Regions from separate parts of the Homo sapiens genome. Here region 2 is linked to region 1. The links come from fine-mapping of genetic effects on gene expression. Tissue or cell type: skeletal muscle. Region 1 holds a variant in brackets; the other region holds the start of a gene. All regions are shown on one strand. Distances are between the middles of the regions.

Region 1 (2,682 bases):
TTTTTATTTATTTATTTATTTTTGAGAGGCAGTCTCACTCTGTCACCCAGGCTGGAGTGCAGGCTCACTGCAACCTTCGCCTTTCAGGCTCAAGCAATCCTCCCGCCACAGCCTCCCAAGCACCTGGGATCACAGGTGCATGCTACCATGCCCAGCTAATATTTTTTAGAGATGGGATTCCCAATGCTTCTTGGCCTTTTGGATAAGATCAAGTGTACAGATGGGGTTTCCCCATGTCACCCAGGCTAGTCTCGAACTCCTAAGCTCAAGCAATCCGCCTGCGTTGGCCTCCCAAAGTTCTGGGATTATAGGCACGAGCCACCGCTCCCAGCCTTGAGACTATTTTTTTAATGGAGAGGTCATTTTTGTTGTTTTCCTACATGAGACCATATTCTGTGTACTCTACAACTTGCTTTTTTCATTTAACATTTTGTTTTAGACATAATCCCACTTAAAGTATATAGATCTATTTCATTCTCTACAATGATCACATTACTATTTTATTGTATGGACATACTATAATTTATTTAGACATTTTCCTCTTGGCTGGGTGCAGTGGCTCACACCTGTAATAACAATAATAATAACAATTATTATTATTATAATATATAAAAAACAGAGGTTAAATTAGAATGTATTGAAAACAGTGAACACAGAGATTGGCAGGTAGTAAGTTAGTTCACATCATGTCCAAGAGGATCTCACCTTCCACACCGGAAAATGACCCATCAAGGTGTTTATCTTACAAAAGAGCAGGTATTGCCCTAAGTGAGTTGTGCCACCAACCTAGGACATCCAACAGTTAGCTTTTAACATAATTACTTTCTTCCCTGTTAGTGTGTTGTAAGAAAGCTTCCTTTCGACTTAACACTTTAGAAATGTTGCTTATAAAATGCTTCAGTTCTCAGGGATTTCATGGTGAAAATGAAAGATGCTCTTGGATAACTTGAATGTGTCATCCAGGCCAACAGAGCTGAGATGCAGTGCAATTTCTCCCCCGCCTCTGCTATCATCCCTCCCTTCACAGATGGCACCTCCACTCACCCAAGTTTCAATCAGACTCTGGGAGTCATCCTTGAGTCCCCTTTTCCTTGTCCTCCACCCTCGGTCCCTCAGCAAGTCCTGCTGGGCTTACCTGCAAATCCTCTGTCTCCATCCATACCAGCACAGGCAGCCCTTCAGCTCTCACCTGGGCCAGCGCAGTGGTTTCCTCATGGGTCCCCTGCTTCAACTCTTGCCTTCCTGCAGGAAGTCCATTGTCCCCTAGGCTAGCAGAGGGAGCATTTAAAAGCATCAGTGGGATCACTCCCCTCTTGTGCTTAAAGGCAACCAGTGCTTCCTATTGCCTTCAGAGTGAAAACCAGACTCCATGACAAGGCTCTGCTTATCCCAGCCCGCCT[T/C]TCTCCAGCCCTGGCTTCTGCTGCTGCCCCTGACCCCCTCATTTCTCTGCCCCTAATGCCATGGCCCGCCGCTCTGAGCCTTTGCACTTGCTCTTCCTTGGACCACTCCCAACACCTGTAGCTCCTTCTCAACTTCAGAAAGACCTTTCCTGACCATTCATTCTAAATCAGTCCAGCCTTAATTTCTCTGGATCATGTCGCCTGTTTATTAGCATCTGAGTCTCTCTCTCTTTCTACTTATTTGTGTGCTGTGTTCTCCCCAACTAAACTGGAGGCTCCCTGAAGGCAGGAGCCTCGTCTGTCTTTTTCACTGCTCTGGCCCAGCATTTTGTGCGGTATATACTTGCTGAATGAATGAACAAATGAATGAATGAATCAATGAGGAAAATGAAGAGGAAATCCCAGGGGAATATATGGTCTGAGGAGATACTCAAGGTAGGGGTGCCAAGGGAATTGCCACTCCATACAGAAGCCTGGTTCCTCCCTGTGAGGGAGTCTGGGTGGGAGCTGATCTGAGCCAGAGGCATTGGCCGTGGAGTCCAGGGGTCTCCTGTGTGGCTTCCTGAGATGGCAGAGGGAGTATCCCCACCCTGCCCCCATCAGAAATACCCAGACTGCTGGAGCAAAAGGGCACAGCTGCTGCCTCCAATGCCGATTTCCACACAGCCACTGCCTTCTTCCACCAACCACAGAGCCCCTGAGTTGCCATAGCAACAGAGGACTGCACCAGAGTCCAAATAGGGATGTCTGCATTTCCCGGCACTTCTGGCTGGGGAGGCAGGGGGTGGTCAGTCCACAGCTGTGCCTATGCCCTGTCTCTGACCTGTCCTGGTCTCTAAGCAAAGCACCCTCCTCTGCCTTTCCACCCTCATTTCACTTCCTCACTTGAAAATCTTAAGAAGAGGATCTGGAAAAATAACTAACAGGTACTAGGCTTAATACCTGGGTGATGAAATAATCTGAACAACAAACCCCCATGACACATGTTTACCTATGCAACAAACCAGCACATGCACCCTTGAACTTAAAAGTTAAAGAAAAAAAAAAAGGCCGGGCGTGGTGGCTTACGCCTGTAATCCCGGCACTTTGGGAGGCCGAGGCAGGTGGATCACCTGAGGTCAGGAGTTCGAGACTGGCCTGGCCAAAATAATGAAACCCCGTCTTTACTAAAAATACAAAAAATTAGCTGGGCGTGGCAGCCTGCACCTGTAATCCCAGCTACCTGGGAGGCTGAGGCAGGAGAATTGCTTGAACCCAGGAAGTGGAGGTTGCAGTGAGTCAA
Region 2 (2,682 bases), 42 kb before region 1:
CTTTCCTTACTTCTAAAATATAAAATTGTAGATCGTCTAAGATAGGACATTTTATTTGATAAAAGGAGGATTGACATCTGTATGCACCGAAAGCATCTGAAACATGACAAACACAAGCCGTTATTTGCGGTTCCAATCAACATCAGTTTACCACCTGGCTCAATTCCCACCATTACTGTATGTTAGATTAACACTTCCAAAAACCCTGCAGAAGGTCTCTAAATTTCCTGGGGGAACTTAGCTACAGACGCGGAGTGAAACAAGCAGCTCTTTTCCCTGGGGCCTCAATGTATTAAATCAAACCCGAGAAAATGATCCAATCATTTCCTATACATTTCCTCCCCAGCTATGCCATCAAATCTCTTAAAACGTCACTTCCAAGCATTTAAAATACACCCGGCACACGCCCTGCAGACTTCATCGTAGCTCTCCCTTTTGGGGCATCACCACAGCCAAACATCGCCTCTTCCAAATCTACTGCAAACTGCGGGCTTGTCTCTTGCTTCATTTTTTACTTTTGTCTTAAAACGGAGGCGAGGGGGATGGGTTTCGACAAACTAGGCTCTGAAACCCTGAGCAATAGCATCTTGCTGTGGGGAGCTATCGGCAGCAGCAGAGATTTTAATCTTTTCTCTCCACCCAGTTTCCGTTTCATGCTTTTTTCTTTCTTTCTTTTCCAATGACATCAAACCAAAGGTGGAAAAATGAAAAACGAATGCCTCAGATCGATGCCGCCTGTGGGTCGCGGGTTCTGACTCAGGGACCCGCCCGCCCTGGGAAATGCGGGAAACGAGGCCGGGAGGAGGACTTTCCACCGCCGGAGTCCCACCTGGGGTCGCAGACGGGCAGGCCGGGCCCGTGGCAGCCTCGAATCCGAGCCCGGGGCCCGACCCGCCCCTCCAGGCCCAGCGCGGCCTGCCAAGCCCCGGCGTCGAGTTGGCCGCGGGCCGGCCAGAGAGGCCTGAGGCGGCCAGCGGGCAGGGCAGAGCCAGGGACCGGAGTTCGGGGCTGGAGTCGGGCGCCGCTTACCTGCTGGTACCGGCTGCCGCAGGCCGGCTCGACCGCCGCCAGCGCCGCCAACGCCAACGCCATGGCGCAGCCGGCAGCAGGGAAGCAGAGCGAGCGAGCGAGCTAGCTGAAGGGGCGCGGCCGCTGCGGCTTGGGAGCGCTGGGAGGCCGAGGGGGACGCGCCTTGGGTGGGTCTCGATGGCCGCCGCCGCTCCCGGGCGAGACGCTCTTCTCAGGCTGTAAGCACCGCCGCCGCCGCCGAGGCTCCGACGCGGCCCCTGGGGAAGAGGCGGGGACTACGACGACGGCGCTGCGCCGCCGCCCCACCCCCGACTCGCGCCGCCCTGCCCGGCCCGGCCCGGCCTAGCCTAGTCCTGCGCCGCCGCCCCGAGGTGCACCGGCCCTGGTGTAGTTGCTCCGACGACCTGAGCCTCCGAGGCTCAAGTGTTGTATTCGATTCCACTAAAAACGAATTACTAACAGGCCAGCCCAAAGCAAGGGCGATGCTGCTGATGAGCACCTCGTGCCAAGCACTGAGCTTCACCTACGTGCCCTCATCCAGCCTTCAGCACAACCGCCCTGACGCAGGGACCACAACCCCATTCTCGAGGTCGTTGGCAACCAGAGAGGTTGACAATCTTCACAGCAGCGACCTGATCCCTCGTGTCTGGCAGCAGAATCGTGGTTCTTATTCACTCCCTTCTTTTATCTGCCGTACTCATAAACCAGGGGTCAGCCAGCGACAGGGAGGGGGCCAAATCCGGTCTGCCACCATGACTGTGAAAAGTACATGAAATTCAAGTTTCAGTGTCCATAAATAAAGTTTTATTGGAACACAGCAGCACCCATTTGTTTGGTATGGCCTGCAAACCCTATAATACTTGCTATCTGACATTTTACAGAAAAAGTTTGCTAACCCTAAATCCTTGAGAACTGCTTGGATCTCAAATCCTACTTAGGGTGGATGATTATAATAGCATCCTCATGTTTATGCCATCCTTTAGTATTTTAACAGCCTCATCTGCGGAATCGGAAACAATATTTTCCAAAAAAGCTCCCTGACTCGGTGACATGAAGTCAAAACTTGAAGGGTTTGGCCATGCTAAAGGCTTTCCCGACCACAGGAACAGGTGCAAAGGGCGGTCCAGAGAGAGATTGTCTTGTGGAAGAACAGAAAGGAGGCTGGCATAGCTGCCATATAGGAGATACAATTATCAGTGTTTCACAGATGAGGAAGTTATGCCCAAAGAAATTAAATATCTCACCCAATGACACAGAGCTACTAAGGGGTGAAGCTGGAATACAACTCCATTAAGCCAGCTTTCTTACCCAGTATTGCACAACTAAATTATAAGCTTTGTGAAGACAAGAGTATTTGTCTTTTAAATCTTATTACCTCCCAATGCCATGTAGCACAGTATAGCTATATAGCAGGCTTGCAAGGTCTGTTTCTTTCACACCCAGCCATCTGCAATTGCTTCTACCCACATGTCCTACAGAGAAAAACAAAATCTTCCATCTCTGAAGCTTGTTGCAATTCCCATTTCTTCTTCATTGCCTTTCCAAGTTGGCAGTGTAGAGGTTATATTAATATGATTATTGTCTTAGCTTCTAATTTTGAAGTTTAGTTAATTATGTATTTTAAAAGAGAACTGTGTTTAGAACACACCCTGA

What was found. PIP is the estimated chance that this variant, and not a neighbour inherited with it, causes the effect.
Region 2: it holds the start of NDFIP1, and the variant in region 1 is fine-mapped to the expression of NDFIP1 in skeletal muscle (GTEx, PIP 0.91).

Annotation. Positions count from the first base shown.
Region 1 is chr5:142,064,928-142,067,609 of GRCh38, reverse strand. No RefSeq gene overlaps it. Among named protein-coding and RNA genes, the nearest start is that of NDFIP1, 43 kb to the left of the region's middle. The variant T/C (reference allele first, on the strand shown) is at 1,401.
Region 2 is chr5:142,107,385-142,110,066 of GRCh38, reverse strand. NDFIP1 (Nedd4 family interacting protein 1) reads right to left here and starts at 1,288. Exons shown (of 8, transcript NM_030571.4): 1 at 1,030-1,288. The coding sequence starts at 1,092. RefSeq lists silencers at 859-928, 999-1,128, 1,189-1,458 and an enhancer at 1,036-1,537.